Regions from separate parts of the Homo sapiens genome. Here regions 1 and 3 are each reported to be linked to region 2. Evidence: microRNA targets listed by miRTarBase, many of them from high-throughput screens and not tested one by one. Region 2 holds a microRNA gene; each other region holds the end of a gene's coding sequence.
Evidence for each region. Region 2 holds the annotated microRNA hsa-miR-1287-5p (UGCUGGAUCAGUGGUUCGAGUC, at 2,210-2,231, shown strand). A microRNA usually pairs through its seed, bases 2 to 8, with sites in the 3' UTR of a target mRNA and lowers its output. Matches are read on the target gene's strand: a 7mer-m8 pairs with bases 2 to 8, a 7mer-A1 pairs with bases 2 to 7 and ends in A, and an 8mer does both.

Region 1 (7,200 bases), not on the chromosome of region 2:
CCCAGCTACTTAGGAGGCTGAGGCAGGAGAATTGCTTGAATTTGGGAGGGGGAGGTTGCAGTGAGCCGAGATCACACCACTGCATTCCAGCTTGGGCGACAGAGGGAGACTCGGTCTCAAAAATAAATAAATAAATAAATAAATAAATAAATAAATAAATAAATAAAAATAAAAAGTATCATTGTGCACATAGATGTCTCAGCTGCAAATCTCTTGGACTTACAAACCTGGCATCTTCCATTATGGATGTCAACCATTTCAGTTAAGTGCTTTCATCATTCAATAGATTGTCTAGGAGGATTTAAAGGGTATAGGAATGCTTCATATGTACAATTAATTCTCAGTGATGCCTAAACTTTACTATGAACTTCCATTTCTTTGTGCTAAGTATCACTCTCTCCAGAGTTGTATTTGACAGTGCCAGTGGTCCTCCACAGGCCAATATATTAATTCATTTGCACATTAGCATAAATTTACTTGGACTGCATTTTCCTCCAGGGCAGAAAAAGTTTTTGAAAAAAATGGGCAATTGAGGTGAGGGTTCCTTTGACTAACTGCACGTCGCCCAGGGCTGGCCTAAAGTTAAACGACCTTCATGGATTTAAATGACTCAGATAAAGAGAAAGTAATTAGGGTAACAGAGGGCTCATCTGAAGGCAAAAGTTATTTGCTACTCACAGTGGTAAAGGGGTACAGTAGCAAATATGGTCACGCTCTGAAAACAAGCACAAGGCCCTAGCCATGCCAGGCTGTGCAAAGACAGCTAGAACTGACGGTGGGACCAGGCTCCACAAAGATGGTCAGAGGTTTTTTTTTTTTTTTTTTTTTTTTTTGAGACGGAGTCTCACTCTGTCGCCCAGGCTGGAGTGCAGTGGCGCGATCTCGGCTCACTGCAAGCTCCGCCTCCCGGGTTCATGCCATTCTCCTGCCTCAGCCTCCCGAGTAACTGGGACTACAGGCGCGCCCGCCACCAGGCTGGCTAATTTTTTGTATTTTTAGTAGAGATGGGGTTTCACCGTGTTAGCCAGGATGGTCTTGATCTCCTGACCTCGTGATCCGCCCGTCTTGGCCTCCCAAAGTGCTGGGATTACAGGCATGAGCCACCGCGCCCGGCCATGGTCAGAGTTTTAAGCCAACAGATTATAATCCTGGCATAGGGAATGAGGGACAAATACTCAAAAGACGGTCGCCTAGCCCCAAACAAGGATTATAGAGCCCCAAATAAAAAGGTTTAGAGGGAATATCCATGTGTTTATGTGTAACTGACCCTCGTGCCAGGGAAAAACTGATCATGGCACATATCCAGAAGAGGTGGAAAGCCCCATGACATGCATCTCCACACTGAGTTCCAATCACTACCCGCAGGCCTGGGTTTCTTGTCCATGTTAAGGCTAAGTATACATCTCATCTGCCTCTTCCAGCTTCATTACCTTCCCTTCCCCCATCTTTTAAAAACTCACCCCTACCCAATCCCATCCATCATCCCCAACTCTCCTCCACTGAGAGTTACAAGAACTTTGTAATTTGGTCAGAAGCAGTAAAAAGTGCTTGTTAGTTGTTGCCTCTTTTTCAAAACCGATGTATCTAAATCCTTCAGTCTTTTACTAGAAAGGGCCCAGGGACTGTCTTTTGCCCCTACCTTTTGTAAGTGTGGAGTGCTGGCTCTCAGAAGCAGGGGCCATCTCTGCAGCGTGTCCGGTTCATAGCCTGGGGCTTGTTGGCTGCCTCCCGCCCTTGTTCTTTGATGATTTTGCCCTCCCCTCATCTCTGTGGGAATCCCAGCCCTGGGGGAAGGGGCAGAAGAGGAGGCAGGGCACCTTCAGCAAACACATAGTGAATATGAGTCACCACCATCTAATGACCTTTCCATTTGTTATCAGTTTCCACTACCTCAGCTAGTCTCAGGATGGGAAACAGCCCTCCACAGGTCAGAGTCATTACGTCACTCCTCAGCAGCCTCTCTAGCTCCCCTGTTGGTTTCAGGATAGGCAAGCAGGATAGGAGGGCGGGATCGGGGGTCTTCTGCACACTGGCTTCCAGTCCTCTTTTCTCCTCCTCTCATCTCCTCCCAGGACCTCATTCCAACGCATACTGTTCTTCTCTCACTCAGCCCAAACATCACCACCCTTGGAAGCCTTTTTAGAGGTCTTTGTTGATGTGGAGCTAGTCCCTCTTTCCTCTGGGCTCTCACAGCACTCTGTGTTCACCTGAGTTATAGCACTTGCCACATGATACTACGATGATTAGTTTACATATCTGTCATTCCCATCCTCCTTGCTCAGACTGTGACATGGGCTGGTGTAAGTCTTATTCATTTGGGTGTCATGGGAGCCTGACTCTCAGCAGCTTGCTCTCAGGAGGTGCTCAGAAAATGTTAACTGAGTGAAGGAAGGGAAAGGGGAAGAGAAATGGTCTTTTATTCATTTATTGAGCAAAACACAAGTAGGATGATACAATGAGGCACTGACGCAGTACAGAAAGCAATGGTGCTTTTAATGAAACTTCTTTCAAATCTGTGAACATGCTAGCTGTGAAGTACATGCTTTTATTCTTTCCATAGGACATATTTCCAAATAATGATCACAGTATTATGGTTAATAAGATGCTGGACAGATGCGTAGCCAAAGAATATTACATAACAACAAAATCTCATCAATGATATATCAAATGCAAATTTACTAAGACATCAAGAGAATATCTGTTTGTAGTTACATGGCTAAAAACAAGACATTATTACAGTAACCAAGTCCATAAAACTAGAAAAAAAGCACTGTATAACAAAAAGGCCTTTTAGAAGCTATTAAATGAACAAACATTATAGATAAACCAATTTTATATCTGAAGCAGCTTATAGCACCAACACGTTGGCAGGACCAGCAGAGGGGTGGGGTCTTTGGACCAAGGCATCTGGGAACAGGAAGGGCTCTCAGCCATCATCTACTGCAGCCACTTGTTTTACAAATGGAGAAATAGAGGCCCAGAGAGATGAAGCGCCTTGTCCAAGGTCACACAGCACAGGACAGACTGGGAAATGATCCAGGGCTATGATCCAGGCCACTGACTTCAGGTAAGTGCTCTATTTTAACATACAGATATAAGATTCTATTTGATTTGATGTATTTTTTCCCCATTAACAGGTCTACCATAAAAGAAAGCAATAAAACCCATAATGTACTCTGGTATTGTATTTATTTCACTGAGAAATGACTGGCATGTACTACGATCATTTTGGGGGCCTATATAGATCTTACATCAAAATTCAGAGGAATTAGTCAGATAACACTATTTTAGTTATAAATTGAGAAGGTGGCATTTGAAGAGAATATTTGGCACATCCTCCACTACGTAAGCTACCCTATGCCTCAAAATTACTAAATCATTGGTATAAAGTTTTGGTTTTTTTCCTGATAGTTTAAAGATTAGTAAAGTACAAAAACAGTCTAAATAGAGAAAAAGCAAGTCAGGTCTTTCCTTTAAAAGTTAAGTATGGCACTTTTCATTTTAATAAGGTAAATGATTTTAAAAACCTGACATTTTTTAGAAGAAAAAAAAAAACTAGCTATGAGCCATCACTTGTGAACCATCTGGTATATAAAATATTTCCCTTATTTAAAAAATGTTTCTGTAAAATACTTCGGAGTCATGAAATCATGCCGTGGTCCTGAGGCCTCAACTGGACAGATTTATGATGAACTAATGAAGATATAAGAATGAAAAAAAGAAAGAGATCACTGTTAACAGAAGCAGCATTAAGGACAAAGTATACTGAATATATTGAAACAGCTTCATGGAAATGAAGCCAAGAAGTTGCATGTATATACGTGAGAAAGATTATCATTACAGTGGTAGTTGGAAAAAGTAACAAACACTGGGTATTTGTCTATCATTAACATAAACCAACTGTTGCAGACAGTTAAACTGTGGCTTTGTAAGGAGAATAAAGCCTGATAAAAAAAGTGACTTCTGCATATCATATATATGTATACATATATTTTCTCACATAGACGTCTAGTTATAAGTAAATCAACATTTAGCTACAACTTTTCCTCTCTTGGGTCCAGCATCAAAAGATTTGATATTCATGAACATGCCCTACACCTGGTTAGGAAGTTATGTATTTATACTCATAGCCTTTATTGTATCTGACCAGGGTGAATAAAATGAAATCTCCTGGGACCTCAAGTCCATTTCTTACCACTATAAGCATATTAACAGATATATATCAAAACATACTTGTTTACTGTTAGGTAAAAGAGCATGTTTCAGTACTAAATAATAAACTATGCCTGCTACCAATAACATGCACATAATGGTATAATAAAAGTAATTTTTCATGAAAATATTTTGAAAGAAGCTACATTATAAATATTTAAAGAAACGTTAAAAATCAGAGTGAAAATCAGATTAGTGTTCTGAAACTGAGTAGAAAAATAGACTTATAAAAAAAAGAATGTCTCATTAAGTGAAGCATTAAATGTAAAGTTGTCTTTTTAGTGTAAATTTCAAATCTCACCCTTTGAGAGGTAAAATCTTCCTCTCTCCTAAACAGGTACCTATAATTGATTTGGGAACTGGGCATATCGCAGAACGAAAAAGCAGATGACACAAGGCTAAGGGCAGTGCCGTGATTTTCACATGGCCTTAGAAAAGCGAGGGGCATTCATAAGGCTGAGTAGATAGCAACTTGGAGAAATACTGAATAAATGTGAGCAGTTTGAAAACAGTAATGCATTTGTCCACCCTAAATGAGCTAATACTCAAAGCCCAGACATTAGATTTTAAAAGGGGTTTGCTTTCCAGGACAGATTGTACAAAATTTGGGAAAATCGTTGTAAATAATTACTTCCTGGGGTTGATTCCTTTTTGAGGGGAAGTTTTTAACCTTTCCTTAGTAGTTACTTTTAATGAACTGAAGAAGAATTAAAGCATCAAAGGCCTAGTGTATGATTTGACTCCGAAGTGACCCTCTCTTCTACTTTGATAAAGTCAAGATACCTTATTGGCCATAGGAGATTCCTCCTTTTGGGGCTACCCCCATACCTGGAAATTCCAAGAGTGTGAGGGCTATATTTGGGCCCAGAGGAAAATCAAGGAACCCCATATCCAGCTGCTAAAGCCCTTGGGCCCAAGGAGTGTACCACTGAATCCAAGGCTCTCTTGGGTAGCCTATGTGCCTCTTGGATGGTATGTGAACAAGGTAGGGATGAAACTGCAGATGTCTGAAAAGAGCTTAAGCATCCTGACAGCTTGCATTTTTTTTTTAATTTTTTTTTTCCTCACCGTATTCCACATACCTGTGGCTGGGGAAGGTAATGTTACCTCTGCAAACAGATGCTCTGGTAAGAGAAGAAAGACACAGGGAAGGCAGAGAGAGCAAGACAGAGGGCTCAATCACAAAGCTGGGACAAGGAGAGCAGCTGTTTTTCACACATTCCTGCTCCTCTCTCAGCTGGGCTCATGTTCACTCCGTTTCATTCCAATCATCAGGGTGGAGATTTCAGAGGTGCCTATCCCTAATCCAGTAGAGAACATGAGCCCTGGGAGCACAGCTGCCTGGAGTCCTCCCAAGGGTCTCCTCCCCTTTTCCAGACTCAGCATCATTGAAGCCCTAACGGGTCCTTGTAAATTAATGTTTCATATTATCGAAGGACTGTCAGTTTAGTTTGGTACAGTTTATTGTAGCCTAAGAGGTCCAGCAAGATTTCAAGAGAGGAGAGATGATTGCATTACTTGATTACAATGAATACAATCTTTAGGATACTCTTTACTTTTTGTACAATAACGATATGAAAGGAATTTTTTATTCTACCTATACACAGCTCAAAATAAAGGTATAACTTCTGGAACTGAGAAACTGATGGTATGGAGAGAGGGACGTTTTCATAAGAAAATAGCTTTGATAAGTGTATACACAAAGGCATATATATATACACACAAACACCCCTCTCTCTTATATACTATACAGGCTGGCACACGCCTTATAAAGAATATAATATCAAGGCTTTAGGATTTCAATGAATTTTGGAATTTTAATTTGACAGGTGCTTAGGCCATTTAGGTCCTGACATATCGGAATCCCTTGTATTTCTAAAGTATATAATTATGTTTTTAAAAAGGCCCAGATCAACTTTCCTTAAACAGTAACCCAACATAAAGCCATAGTTACCAAGTGGAAAATAAGATTGTTATTCTGTATTAAATCAGTAAAGGGTATTTTAAGAGAAAGGACAACTTGGAAAATAGAGACTTCAGAGTCCATTATTCCAAGCTGAGAACATTTTAGTTATTAGCAGTGGTTACCAAATAAGCTGAAGGTAAATCTCTTCAAGGAGCTGCTCATAATTTGCGTTGTTGGGAAGAGGCGAGGAGCTGTTTCTCTATTCCACTATAAGATGATGCAAGTTTTTTTATCCTTGAAAGGGTTTTCTGAAGTTGGTATTCCTATCAGCAAAGGGTCACTCCTGGCATGTTCCTCACAGTAGGACATGAGGTCCGCTGATGCCTTCGAAACCTGACATGGAGATAAATCAAACAAACAAGAAAGAAAATATTTTACTTGCACACTTTCAGAGCGTATTTGAATGCTAGGCTATTGAATGGAAGACTGATTTGAACAAGATAATCAGAGTCTCAAAGCATCACTCTCAGATTCTTGTCAGGTATAAAAAGGAAATGGTACCTTTAAAATGGTGCAATTTGGCAGGTAAGGTCTTTCTTAACCAAGCAACTTAACAATGGTCAGACAAACTGGCACCATGTATCCCTTCATGGGAGTGCTGAGGACACACCGCCAGCTAATGAGCTAGCATTCCTGTCCAACATTGAACTGGAGTCCAATCAGCGAACGATCACACCCGAAGTGAGGGTGATTCTGCAAAATAAGTGGCCTGGATTCTTCAAAAATGGACTGTGTGTGAGGTATTCTTATTAGATAATCCTGAACTGCAAATAACTTTCAAGGGTTTAAAGAAGACATTATATATGTTTTGTGTGTATGTGTGTACAGACAGAAGGAGGGAGAGAGACAGTGCAAGCAAGTACATGTGGTCAAATGTTAAAAACTGGTGAATCCTGGTAAACGGTTTATAAATGTTTGTTGTTACAACTCTTCAGCAGGTTTGAAATGTCTCAAAATAAAAAGTTAGGGGCCAGGTGAGAAAAAGCATATGTGAATCAAGGGAAGGTTGTATCTTAAATTCT
Region 2 (7,200 bases):
CAGGTCTTTCCCAAATATGAGGAGTTCATGCATCGCTTGGCATTAGCCATTGACCCTCTGCTGGATGCGGCCCCCGTGGACATGGCGGCCTTCCAGCATGGCTCCTTGCTGCAAAGGATGAGGTCGCTCTCCACCCTCAAGCCCCTGCTGAAGGCAGGTAAGTCCAAGTGCAGGCACCAGGGCATGATGAGTGACCTTCAAGGAGGTGAGCCCATTGTCTCGATGCCTAGACACAAGCCTGAACCTCCATGGCAGCCTGCCAGCTGGGATCAGTTAACATGCTGCGATCAATTAGGGGCAGCCTGGAGCACTTTGTTGAGAGCATCTTAGGCTGATATGCCTTTAAAATAGAGCCTGAGACCAAGGCTTATGCGTGGGTAGTTCATTTGGAAGGGTGACCCCAAGACACAAAAATAGCAGAAAGTTGGGGTGAAAGTGGACAGAGAAAGAGTCAATACCAGAGTGTGTGATCGCACTAGCCAGCACTGTGGGTGACAAGATGCTGGACCTGTGTGGGCCCTCTGGGAAGCCTTATGAAAAGCATTTGAGGAACCTTCTCGGGAGATGGAAAGGGAAATATTTATCCATTGGGTTCTATCTCCCATTGGCCAAGGGTTGCCTCACAGGGCATTGACTCCCACACTTCTGGGCTGTGCATCTGTGGGTGCCAAGTAGGTTCCCATGAGTGCCCTGCCCTGGTGCCAGAGAAGCCCTAGGGAAGAAGTAGAGAGGCTCACTTTTCAGGACTGAAGTGAGTTGCTGTGGAGTTGCCTGTGTGAAGCTGATCAAAGCCTGCTTGGAGCTCAGCATCATGGCTGTGGCTAGAATAAGATATAGGGGCCAAGAGATTTGAAGAGCTGCCCCCATACAGGAAGAATGCTAGATTTGGGCTCAGCAAGGAGAAGTTCTGTGATCAATTAGTAATGTCTGCCATGAGTATGCGAATGGAAGGCTCATTAAGTGTGCTATTATTTTCTACCCTCCTTGAGGGTATACAGACCAGTTTAACCTCTATATCCTAGAAAAAAAATCATTTGTTTCCCACATGTCTTCGTGGTTCAGCTGATTCCAGCTGGCTCAGCTGATCTGGTTTGGTCTCAGGCATGTGTTTGTGTCTGCAGCAGCTCAGTGGAGGCAGCTCTGCTCCAGGTACCTCTCGTCCTCCTTGTAGAAGCACATGCTGACCTGGGTGTGGACTTTTCACATCAGTGGCACAAGCACAGAGGGCATGCCCCAATGTACAGGCCTGTTTCAGTTCTGGGTTTGTGTCACATCGGCAAACATTCCACTGGCTGACCAAATCACATGGATGAGCCCAGAGCCAAGGAGCCAGGCAGGTTAACCAAGTTGTGGTGGGTTGAGAGGCACTGCAGACTTATACATTGCAAAGAGTATGGAGCCAGTGGAATCTATTACAAATGCAAAAAGTAGACACTGCCTCTCTCTCAGATAACCAGTCCAAGGAGCTCTGTGTGAAAAACAGGCAAAAAACATTTATTGAGCAACTACTATGTGTCAGACACTAAGCTAGGCCCAGGGGCTGTAAGGCTAGAGACCATGATTTCTACCCTGAAGGCCTTAAAGCCTAGTTTCTTTCTGAAATGGTCTGAATCAGGGTCATAGGAATGGATCAGCCATGCCAGCCTTCTCCCAGGATATGGGCCTTCCAGAGTTCGAAATAAGGGAATAAGGTACAAGTTTAAAATTTTCCAAAAATAATGCTAACTGCTTAAATGTATTAAGTACCCATGAACTTGCAAATGCTTTACCTAGCTCATTTAATCCTCACCGTAGCCCTTGGGGTGTAAAATAGGATTCCCATTTTACAGGTAAAGAAGCAGGTTCAGAGATGTTAAAAATGTGTCCCAGGCACTGCAGCTAGTGAGAGGTGTGGCCAGGACTCAAGCTGGATCTGTCCCTGCATTGGCTGTGCTATACCACCTCCTGGCAGGAAGTCTCAGCATCCTCCATGCTTTTATCCCCCAGGCCAGGTCGGAGGGTTTCCCTGTCACCTGTTTCAACTTCTGTTTTGTGGATCTTCTCTTGTAGGCCGCATCCTGGGAGCCCAGCTTCCCCGATATTATGAGGTCCTCACAGCTCCCATTACCAAGGTGAGTGGTTCCCCAGCCTCAGGCCCGACCAGGCAGTGAGAGGGCCCTCCTCCCATCCAGGCTCCTAAGCCCTTCTCTCTGCTGTTGTGCTGTCCAGGTGCTGGATCAGTGGTTCGAGTCTGAGCCTTTAAAAGCCACTCTAGCCACAGATGCAGTGATTGGAGCCATGACAAGTCCCCACACTCCGGGGAGTGGGTGAGTGAGGGGGGTGAGGTGGGACACAGGAGTGGGGCATGTTCCCCAACAGGAGTGAGGACAACAGTGGCAGTGGCAGCAACAACAGCTGCCACTTAACAGAGCTCACCCAGTGAGCCAGGAACCGAGCCAGGCACATCACACACGATCCACTTAACCCTCAGAGCAACATCTGAGAACTGCGGTTCAGAGAAGGGAGTGTCTTGCCCAAAGCCACTCAGCTGGTAAGTGGCAAGGCTGATTTCCAGCTTGAGGTGTCTGACTCCCCAAAATCTTCCTTTTTAGTGACTGTGCCCTACTGCTTCACTAAGAAAAGCCTCTCTCCCACCTCCCGCTTGATAGCTCAAAATTAATATCTTCTTTTCTCTCCTCTTCCCTTCCCTCTTCTACCTCTCCACTCCCGCAAACGCCCATTCTCCCTTCTCTCTCACTGTTCCTTCCCCTGGGCTCTGGTACACACTCACACAGACACCTCAGGATGGACAGGAAGCTGCCTTTTTCTTTATGAGTGAGGGTTTGTGCTGACAGCCCAATCCGAGAGGTGGCAGTCAGACACAGCAAAGCCTGCAGTGTGGTCTGACTTAATGAGCCCCCGCAGAAGCAGGAATGGAAGGCTGTGTGTGTGTGTGTGTGTGTGTGTGTGTGTGTGTGTTGGGATGGAGAATGCAGCCAAGGGTTGGGCCGTTTCCAGTGCACCAGAAGATACAGCTAGAAGCTAGAAGCTAGAAGGCGTCGACGTGGCTTTTCTCTCAAGGGATGAGCACACCCTCGGAAGTGGTTTTTCAACACATATTAAGCCGGCCCCAAATTCCCCCAGGGCGATGGAGATGGGGGCTTGGCAGCAGTTGCCACACATTGGCCAAGCTGTGATCTACCAGCCAATCTGGATCTTCCAGCTGGGGCCTCCTGCCCTTTTCTCTTCGGATCCCTGGGAGGCTTAACCAGTGCTCCGTTTGTGATCTTTAAGTAATCTGTTCCATCATTAATTCTTCCAACAAATATGGATGAGCGCTTGCCTGTGCTAGGTGCTGGGGATACGGTAGTGAGCGGAGCAGATGTCCTGATGGGTGAGAGACACAGAGCGAGTGATGATGATGAAGTGGCGTGAGTGTGATGCTAGGAGGAGCAGCCGGGACACAGCCTGGTCTAGGGTCAGAGAAGCCTCTACATGGAAGAGGTGTTTGATCTGAGACCCAAAGGACAAAGAGGAGTTAACAAAACATAAGATGAGGGAGGGAGGGGCTTCAGGCCGACAGAACAGCAGGGGAAATGCTGGGGTTGAGAGAACGTGTGATCCACCCAGGAAATCGAGAGGTTCTGTTAGTTAGGAGGATGGGATATGGATAGGGGGACAGGATGAGGGATGAGGCTGGAGTGCCTGCTAGAAGACTGGCCATTATCCTAAGAGCAGTGCCAAGCCGGGGAGGCTTGGAATGGTGATAAGTGAGTGGCAGGAGCAGAGCTGGGCTTTAAGATAGGGCTCCAGGATATATGTGGACAAGACCTGCAGGAGAGAAAGTGTGGGAGAGGGGGTCCAATGAGGGGCACTACTGCAGCAGCATAAGGAAGAGAAGAGAGGCTGAGAGGTGGGATGACCTTGAAAGCCCTTTGGAGGCTGAGTTGGTGTTGCTTTGTGGATGTAGATGGGGAAGGATGGTAGCGGTCAAGGCTGACACCTGGATTTCTGTCGGAAACAGAACCTCCTGTTGAAAGGTGCCGTTCACTGGGATGGGAAAGATTGAAGGGGAAGCAGCTGGAGAATGGGGAAAAGGTGGTGGGTTTAAGATGCTGCCAAGAAAGGGTCCAAAGGGAGATATCTGTGGGTAGCTGGACACCGGAGCTGGAGCTCAGGAGAGGGCTGGAGCTGCAGGTTTGGGCATCGTTGCCTTCTTTGTGGTAATAAGCTATGCACATAGACACACTTGTTAGGGAGAGGGTGTAGAGAAGGCAAAGGGCTCTTACAAGAACTTGAGCTCATTGAAGGCTGCTGGGAGAGGGCTGGATGGTGGCAGGGAAGGGCTGAAGATCAAGATGGAAAGGAATAGTTGCACCTGGAACTCTGGGGAGATGAGATCCCACCTCCAGGATCTGAGTCGGATGGTCTGTCCACAGGTATGTGCTGCTGCACCATGTGATGGGGGGCCTGGAGGGAATGCAGGGGGCCTGGGGCTACGTCCAGGGGGGCATGGGTGCCCTCTCTGATGCGATCGCAAGCTCAGCCACCACACATGGAGCAAGCATCTTCACTGAAAAGGTGAACGGCCCCTCTACCCCACCCCAATTATTAGTAAGGATCCCAGGACAGAACAAAGTCTCAGATTTGGAAGGTCCCTTGTTTTACCAATGAACAGAGGGGCCATGAGGGGATGGGTTGCAGAATCAAGAGATTAAGGTCATGCAGTCTGTTAGTGGCTAACCACCCCCTTGGAATTCCCTGGTCACTGAACTGAGACTGAGTGTTTCATGGAGAAGCTGAGGCTTCATGGAGAAGCTGCAGAACTTGGTGGGATGGGTTTGGGATGAAGAAGTTGTGAATGCCTAGGAGCAGCACAGACCATGGAAATCCCGGAAGATCTAACATGGATTTCCCTTCCTGCGGTTTCTGGGGCCTTGTTCTGGTGGGCTCTAGACAGTGGCGAAGGTGCAGGTGAACAGTGAAGGCTGTGTTCAAGGAGTTGTGCTGGAAGATGGCACAGAGGTGAGAAGCAAAATGGTGCTGTCCAACACATCACCGCAGATCACCTTCCTGAAGCTGACGCCACAGGTGAGGCTGTGGGCAGGAGGGTGGAGCTTAGATGTCTGCCAAAACAGGGGTTAGAAATCGTGGGGATTGAGGGAGCCAGGATTGCATCAGGGTGTGAGATGCAAAAGCCAAGTCTCTGCATTTGGGAAACAGGGGGGTAAGGGCAGGTAGCAAACGGGGAAGAAGCCTCACAGGTGGGGAGAAGGGGCCAGAGAGGTGAAGTGACCAAGATTCCGGCCATTGGCAGAGCCAGAGCTAGAACCCAGGTCTGACTTTCAATCTAGAGTTATTTCCACAACTTTCCTACTTTCCTGATTTCTCCCCTCTCACCGCTCTAATTCCATTGTCTTTGTCAATGATCTGTTATATTATCCATGATTATTAATTAATCAATTAACAAAGAGCCACAATACTTCTGGGCATACAACAAGAAATACTGGCACCCAGAACTGGAGACTTCAGTTGATCTTGGTGGATTTCAGCTGCTTAAGGCTTGCTCATGCGTCTGCAGTTGGCTGTGGGTCAGCTTGCCGGCTGCTGATCTTGGCGGGACTCCTTCATGTGCCTGGGAGCTGGCTGGTGGTGGCTGGTCCAGGACCGTTTCTGCTGGGATGACCGGGTGGGGGACTCGGCTATGCTCCATGTGTCTGTCCTCCTCCAGCACGGTAGTCCAGGCATGTTCTCAAGGTCTGGCAAAGGGCAAAAGCAGGCAAGCTCAAGCATGCATGCAAGCATCACATGGTTTGATCTCTTTGCATCCTGTTTGCTAGCATTGGCCAGACCAAGTCTCATGGCCAAGCCTAGAGTCAGAGTGTGAGAGCACTGCAAGGTTACACGGAAGTGGGTGTGCAAACAGGGAGGGGTGAGCTTTGGGGGCAGTTTTTGCAATTGACTTACCCTGTGCTCAAAAGATATGATAACATGTATACGCACATGAAGCTCCTAGCCATTCTTGGGGGCAATTCTTAGGGGCAAAGCACTACTTTTTCTGAGTGATTCCATTACTAAAATTCAACAAACATCAGTAAAAAGAAACTTGTTAAGGCAATTCTGAGATCGTCGAGGCTTCCAAGAGCTTACAGACCAGTAGTGAAAAGAGGCCTGCAAACCACTGACCCCTTTGCAAGCAGGGAGAGGTGCGGACTATTTCACAGTCAGAACTGCTGGCCAAGCGCGGAGGAGGAAGTGGTTAGAGCTGAGTGGGAGGGGATCTAGGAAGGCTTCACAGGGGAGGTGGTTTTGGCTGAGCTTTGAAGGATGAAGAGGATTTCCGGAGGGAGCGACTGAGGGATCTTCCTGAGCAAAGAAAGAAGGCAGCTTCCTTGGGGCCTTGGACATCTGAGGCCTTTCATGGAGCCTTCTCCTTCCAGGAGTGGCTTCCTGAGGAGTTCCTGGAGAGAATCTCTCAGCTGGACACCCGGTCGCCTGTCACCAAGATCAATGGTAAGAGGCACACCACATTGCAGCACTGTCTCCTTTGACCCATCTGAGTGAGAAACCTCCAGGCTGGGGGCAGCTGAACTCAGTCATCATCTCCATTCCCGGACCTCCAGCCTGTGTCCCCCTGCAGCCTGGTCAGAAGGTGAAACACTTGCTCATACTTTCCTACTCCCGTCCGCCACTGAGGGTAGCAGGGTGCTGGCTGTAGAGGGAGGACCTTGTGGGGCTAAGACCTGACCCTCCTCTTTGGTCCCTCAGTGGCCGTAGACAGGCTGCCCAGCTTCCTGGCGGCCCCCAATGCTCCCAGGGGCCAGCCGCTGCCCCATCACCAATGCTCCATCCACCTGAACTGTGAAGACACCCTCCTCCTTCATCAGGCCTTTGAAGATGCCATGGATGGCCTGCCTTCCCACAGGTAGGGGCCCTGGACTTTATGTTCCCTGATGTTCTTCCACATGGGCCTGGGAGGCGGGGCTGTCCATGCCACCCACAGCAGGGATCAGGCCTGGTGTTCAACCTTCACAGTGACTTAGGATCTGCCAAAATCCATACTCCTAAGGACAGGAAGTGCATCCCAGGTGAAAAATCTGAGGATGAGGGCAGGTAAGGGGTGAAGAGCGGCTCAGGTTAGCAGAAGGGGCAGAGGGGCAGAGCACTGCCCAGGAAAGTGCTGGGGCTGGGGAAGAAGAGGAGAAAATGTGTTCTGGGAGA
Region 3 (7,200 bases), not on the chromosome of region 2:
TAATAATGAAGAATTAGAGGTATCTATAATTTTTCCCCAAGTTTACCAATGTTAGACTGTGGTTGTTTTATGTAGTTAGGAACCTTCATCAGTGTACAGAAATGTTACTGTTTTATTGCAAACTTTTCAGTACTCTAATGTCTATGATGGCAGAAACTGAAGTTCTGAGAATTTGAGAATTTTCTTGAAATGTGTCCCAAAGTTTTAAATGTTAATGGCAGTTTATTTGTTTAGCTAGGGTTTATCTTCATTTGCAGATTTTCAGATAAGAAACATATATGGCAAACACATTGTTAAGAAGTAAGAGCTGTTGATCTAGAGCTATTATAATTCATAGCATTGTAGCAGGCTATAAAAACCCAGTAAGATGACAGAGTTATATGATGTGAGTGAGGAAGTTGCCATAGTCAGCACCAGGGTAATGTGGCTGGTTTGGCTAACTGTCCTTCACCTTTACACTTCTGAAAGTGTATGCCTAGTCTGTGACACTGACCTCCCCAGTTGGAGGAAACTTCTTACGTCAAAGATATACTCTCTTGTTAGCCTTGACATATCATAAATTCTCCCCTCACCCATTCAAAGATTGTATTTTCTCAATTTAATAAAAGTTGAGGAAAATTTTTTAATAAATATAGTTAAACTCAAGTAGATAAATACGTGTCAAATGACAACTTTTTATAGTAGAAGCTGAAAAGGTATAGGCCATTATGTCTAATTGAAAGTCCTATAAAGCTCAATGTATTTCGATTTTGAGGTTTAGAATGAGAAAGACTTTCCTCCTGCAAACAGAGAAGTTGTTTTTCAGGTCTTAGTTTATTTTAAAATAGAAGTAGCCTTTTGGGGGAACAGAATGGCCTTACTGTTAACTCCAGTATTTAAAACCAACAAAAGCAGAGTTGTAATGTTGACTTGGGGCTGAGGGGATTAGATAACTCAACACATTCCTTCCCGCTTCTCAGAGCCCTGTGTCCCACCACGCAACACCGGGGCACTGTGCAGAACCCAGTTTGGTACTTGTTGAATTTGCTGTGAAGACCAATTAAGGTTGATGAATGAATTAGTTGACATGAGCCCTTTCCAACATAGTCCATTGAATAAATGAAAAGACACATTAAATTATAATAATAATAAATGCATATAAATAAATATAACACAATCCTCTTAAGATTTATTTTCAAATGTGACAATAACGTATCTCTTACAGGAAACTGAAAGCTGAAGACAACCAAGAGGCTTATGAGATCTAATGTGAAAATCATCACTCAAGATGCCTCCTGTCAGATGACACATGACGCCAGATAAAATGTTCAGTGCAATCAGAGTGTACAAATTGTCGTTTTTATTCCTCTTATTGGGATATCATTTTAAAAACTTTATTGGGTTTTTATTGTTGTTGTTTGATCCCTAACCCTACAAAGAGCCTTCCTATTCCCCTCGCTGTTGGAGCAAACCATTATACCTTACTTCCAGCAAGCAAAGTGCTTTGACTTCTTGCTTCAGTCATCAGCCAGCAAGAGGGAACAAAACTGTTCTTTTGCATTTTGCCGCTGAGATATGGCATTGCACTGCTTATATGCCAAGCTAATTTATAGCAAGATATTGATCAAATATAGAAAGTTGATATTCAACCTCACAAGGGCTCTCAAAGTATAATCTTTCTATAGCCAACTGCTAATGCAAATTAAAACATATTTCATTTTAACATGATTTCAAAATCAGTTTTTCATACTACCCTTTGCTGGAAGAAACTAAAAATATAGCAAATGCAGAACCACAAACAATTCGAATGGGGTAGAAACATTGTAAATATTTACTCTTTGCAAACCCTGGTGGTATTTTATTTTGGCTTCATTTCAATCATTGAAGTATATTCTTATTGGAAATGTACTTTTGGATAAGTAGGGCTAAGCCAGTTGGATCTCTGGTTGTCTAGTCATTGTCATAAGTAAACCTAGTAAAACCTTGTTCTATTTTTCAATCATCAAAAAGTAATTATAAATACGTATTACAAACAAGTGGATGTTTTTAATGACCAATTGAGTAAGAACATCCCTGTCTTAACTGGCCTAAATTTCTTCTGGTAGTGTCAGTTCAACTTTCAGAAGTGCCACTTAAGGAAGTTTGATTTTTGTTTTTGTAATGCACTGTTTTTAATCTCTCTCTCTTTTTTTTTTTTTTTTTGGTTTTAAAAGCACAATCACTAAACTTTATTTGTAAACCATTGTAACTATTAACCTTTTTTGTCTTATTGAAAAAAAAAATGTTGAGAAGCGTTTTTAACCTGTTTTGTTAATGCTCTATGTTTGTATTTGGAATATTTGAATAATGACAGATGGTGAAGTAACATGCATACTTTATTGTGGGCCATGAACCAAATGGTTCTTACTTTTCCTGGACTTAAAGAAAAAAAGAGGTTTAAGTTTGTTGTGGCCAATGTCGAAACCTACAAGATTTCCTTAAAATCTCTAATAGAGGCATTACTTGCTTTCAATTGACAAATGATGCCCTCTGACTAGTAGATTTCTATGATCCTTTTTTGTCATTTTATGAATATCATTGATTTTATAATTGGTGCTATTTGAAGAAAAAAATGTACATTTATTCATAGATAGATAAGTATCAGGTCTGACCCCAGTGGAAAACAAAGCCAAACAAAACTGAACCACAAAAAAAAAGGCTGGTGTTCACCAAAACCAAACTTGTTCATTTAGATAATTTGAAAAAGTTCCATAGAAAAGGCGTGCAGTACTAAGGGAACAATCCATGTGATTAATGTTTTCATTATGTTCATGTAAGAAGCCCCTTATTTTTAGCCATAATTTTGCATACTGAAAATCCAATAATCAGAAAAGTAATTTTGTCACATTATTTATTAAAAATGTTCTCAAATACATCTTTCTTTCTTGTGTTGATTTCTTTTTTCATTGTGTGCTGATCAAATTTATTCCATTTAATCACAAAGTCGTTCTGTCTTAACATTTCACCCCTGTATTATCAGATGAGTGAAAATTCTCAATTAGTTGTATGAATAACCAGGCTTTACTGTAAGCAAAATTTTACCTAAGTCCTCTGAAATTAAAAATGTAAGATCAGTCAAGACCTAGAAGTGAATAATTGGATCAGAGACTAAGTCTTCTTTAATATTAAGGGTATATTATTTTTGTTTATGTATGTGTATCTGAGTTTCAGTTAATCTATTTCATCTATTTCTAAAATAATTGGGATTCAACTAGATAAATGTGATTTGTAAAGTTTGAGCCACCTATGTTCTGTCAGCAAGAAAATTAATTATATAACTCTGAAATGCTTATCAGTAACTATCTGCTTTCTTGTTACGAATTCACGTAAAATTTTAACAATACCTATCATATACCAGGTTATACATTATTAAAGTTAGTTAGTGTATCCAGGTATTCAACTTTAGATGAACAATATGGGCACCATGTCTTGGAAGTTCCAAGAGCAACAGAATCTGATGTAGGTTTTTTCCCTTTCACATATATATTGCTCTTCTACCTAAATTTTGTGTTTATCAGAATTTGAAAATATGAGGGAAAACAGTGAAAAAAAGGGGTTTAATCTGAAATTTAATTTTATAAAAATGAAGTAATCACCAGCATCTACTTAAAGATGAACAGGTCCACAGGTCAAGAAGTCAATTTCTAAAAGCTACTTTAAGGAAAAATTAGAGGGACATGTGTAGTGACGTAATTTCTCTCTTACCCCTGGTGAGTTGACTATAAATATAAGTTAGTCTCTCTCTTTATTTATAATATGTGATAATACATACCGATTCTGTATATCAGAGGACCTGGGTTTGAGTCGCAGTTTTGTCACAGCTGTGTTTCCTCGGAGATGTTACTTAACCTCTAAGTCTCAGGTACTTCACCTGTAAATTCAATAATACCTACCTCATGGAGCCGTTGTCATGATTCAGTGAGTTAATGTGTATGATATGGACTCTGTAAACTCCATCAATGATACAAGATATTGTTATATTTATGGACTGAAATTCATTACACATGCAATCCCTGCTTTTCATACCTAGTTTGTTTCTGAGTATTTGCACGAAAGTCAAAGAATAAGTGTGGTACCAGGATGAGGGTGGTTTCATTTCCGGTGAGTAAAATTCACTGTGAAATTCCTAATTGTGGAATAAATAATTGGTGTTTTTGTTTGTTTTGTTGCTCTTGAATTCGAGGGCCACACAGCGGGTGGTGTTATGGTGTCTGCAGCACACATTTCACAATTCGTGGGTACAGACAGGAGTTCTCAACAATTAAACTCGTTGTTTATTTTGGGCTGCTATTCTGCCTAGTGGCAGAAGATATAATCTTAATTCCAGGTGAAATCGACGATACCTGGCTTTTTTGATTATTTCATATATAGTCTGGATTTCTTCTTTGCACACAGTGACATCTGAATTTCAGAGCTGTCCCCATGTGTAGAATGTGTGGGTGGTCAGGAAGCAGGCGGCTTTGGGGATTGCTGTTGGCCAAGTTTCATTAAATGATCTTCATTTTTGTCAGAACTTTACTCTGTATCCTCTTCTCCCAACCTTAATGCCTCTTATTATCCATTGATCCTCTCCTGATACTTCTAAGTCCTTCAATGTAGGGTGGGTGTAAAGAGTAAGGAAGGAGAGTTCCATATGCTCTTCTGTGCCATGCTGGGGCTCTAAGGACTTGAGACTTCCTTGGGGTCTCACAAGATACTACAATGGCCCCTAAACTGCTTGCTGCATTTGGACTGTGTGTTGGTTGAGGGAAGGGGTGAGAGCAACTTCTGCAGTTTTGAAGAAAAGAGCCTAATAATTTGCATTTTGGAGGCAATCCTATTTATGTTAAAAATAGTTTGGTAGCTACCACCCTAACAACTCAAAGATAAGTTTCATCGTAGTACAGCTGAAACTGAAATGAATCTTATAGGCATTAGTGTCTCACAATCACTTTCACCTTTTCATTGCTCGCTGTTTAAAAACATAAGCCTCAAAGAAACAGAGCATGCATCAAACTTTTGTTTACCTCGTTAATACAGTAAACAGCAGAAAGACAAAGAGCAGTCAAATGGCAGCTGTGAAAGAAACTTAACTATGATGGCTGAGTTAGTAAACTTTCTTTTTTTTCTTTTTCTTTTTTTTTTTTCTTTAAGACAGTCTCACTCTGTCACCCAGGCTGGAGTGCAATGGCATGATCTTGGTTCACTGCAACCCCCCACCTCCCGGGTTCAAGCAATTCTCCCTGTCTCAGCCTTCTGAGCCGCTGGGATTATAGGTGCCCGCCACCATGCCCGGCTAATTTTTGTATTTTTAGTAGATACGGGGTTTCACCATGTTGGCCTGGCTAGTCTTGAACTCCTGACCTCAGGCAATCCACCCACATCAGCCTCCCAAAGTGCTGAGATGATTACAAGCGTGAGCCACCGCACCCAGCCGAGTTAGTAAACTTTCTACAGGGCAATACAAACATGATACTAATTTTTACTGGGCTAGAGAGTCATGACATCTATCTTTTTCTTTAGGTTAAATAACCATTAACCTTCAAGACTACAGGAAGTCTGAAGTCGGCCACCTTTATCATTTGGAAATTATCTGTCGAAAATATACCTTGGTAATTTACATTCACTCAGGAGAATCAGATAAAGGTTCGACAGTGACTTACTCTTGTTCATGTTTCCCCAGAAGCAGAGCCTGCGACAAAGACTTGGATGCAAACAGTTTATTTGGGATAGAATCCCAGGAAGTGGGAGTGTGAGGGGAATAAAATTCAATATAGATCCTTCAAAGTAGGTGAAGGTGCCTCTACCAGGTACTCTACCGGCTCTTCCCAGGAGCACACAGAATGCCTAACAGAACTTTTCACTGAAGGACAGTAGCCCAAAATTATTCCCCATTAGCTGAAGGTTTCAGGCTGCAGGCGGGGCAGGGGATTTCACTTCCCGGTACTAGTGAGCAGACCAAGTGTGAATGGAAGACCCTAAGGCAGAAAGAAGACATGCACATGGCAGGTAGTTGAGTTGGGAAGGTGCCAAAATGAGGTGAGTCTGGGATCAAAGGGAACTTTTGGCCCTAGCAAAACCTCAAAGGCATCTATTGCTGGCAGGATTATTGGAAAATGTTTTAGTATGGTAATAAAAATCAAGCAATCATTAATTTACCATTTTTCAGATTTAAGATAAATTTTCCTTCATAATGTACACATATGAAGTTAGTTATAGGTATTCAAATTACTTTCACATTGGTGGAGTTTTTACCAGTTATCAATTTCTGGTACTATAGGTGTTGAATTTAATTGACATTTAACATATTTTGAAAATTTTTTTACAGTATTAGCATTGAAACAAAACGAGCAAAAAGCATGGAGAAACACCATTGAGATGTGACTTGGATCCTTAGAGGAATAACCAGTTACGCATTTTCTGGCAAAGCAACAAGCTTTACAGTACCACAGAAAGTAAAATATCCACAGTAATTCAAGTTGTGCCTTCCAACACACACATATATGCACACACACATATACAATGTTATTGAAGGCCAGTAAAATTATGAAATTCCTCAAAATAAAGTGAAAAAAAGTTTCAAGCAAAGTTGAGCATGGTGTAACCAATTTATGTGTTTTGCAAAACTATCGTTGAGACATTATATCATGACAAAAATTGGTAGCATTTCACAGTGACACACAAAGTTTTTAAATTCAATGAAAATTACATTAAAAAGTAACATGTATACAATCCCATTGCCTTATATTGGACTCATTATATTTACATAGATTGGATACTGTTAGGGACTGAATGTTTATGTCCTCCCTGAATTCATATGTTAAAATTCTAACCCCCAATGTGATGGTTTTAGGATGTGGGGCGTTTGGGAGGTAACTAGGTTTTGATGGTGGAGGCTTCATGAATAGGATTAGTGCTCTTATAAAAAACAACAACAACAACAAACAAACAAACAAACAAAAGCAACCCTAGAGAGCTCTTTCTTCTTCCTGCAATGAAACAAGGAAATGTCAGCAGTCTGCAACCCAGAAGAGGGCTATCACCAGAAGTCAGCTATGCTAGCCCTGTGATCTTGGACTTCCAGCTTCCAAAACTGTGAGAAATACATTTCTCTTGTTTACAAGCCACCCTGTCTATGGGACTTCGTTACAGAAGCTTGAACTGCCTAATACAGGTACTTCTTTTTAAAATTCAAATCTTTGA

Region 1: miRTarBase lists GNG12 as a target of hsa-miR-1287-5p. Seed matches in the 3' UTR shown: 7mer-A1 at 2,604-2,610.
Region 3: miRTarBase lists ROBO1 as a target of hsa-miR-1287-5p. Seed matches in the 3' UTR shown: 7mer-A1 at 1,466-1,472.

The regions. Positions count from the first base shown.
Region 1 is chr1:67,699,066-67,706,265 of GRCh38, forward strand. GNG12 (G protein subunit gamma 12) reads right to left here. Exons shown (of 4, transcript NM_018841.6): 4 at 2,410-6,511. The coding sequence ends at 6,386. Among named protein-coding and RNA genes, the nearest start is that of GADD45A, 17 kb to the left of the region's middle.
Region 2 is chr10:98,390,302-98,397,501 of GRCh38, reverse strand. MIR1287 (microRNA 1287) reads left to right here and starts at 2,195; the gene lies at 2,195-2,284. It overlaps PYROXD2 (pyridine nucleotide-disulphide oxidoreductase domain 2), which reads left to right. Exons shown (of 16, transcript NM_032709.3): 6 at 4-157; 7 at 2,050-2,111; 8 at 2,209-2,306; 9 at 4,419-4,560; 10 at 4,936-5,070; 11 at 6,420-6,492; 12 at 6,748-6,904. RefSeq lists an enhancer at 5,945-5,994.
Region 3 is chr3:78,592,932-78,600,131 of GRCh38, reverse strand. It overlaps ROBO1 (roundabout guidance receptor 1), which reads left to right. Exons shown (of 31, transcript NM_002941.4): 30 at 1-19; 31 at 1,205-2,893. The coding sequence ends at 1,219. Among named protein-coding and RNA genes, the nearest start is that of LINC02077, 550 kb to the right of the region's middle.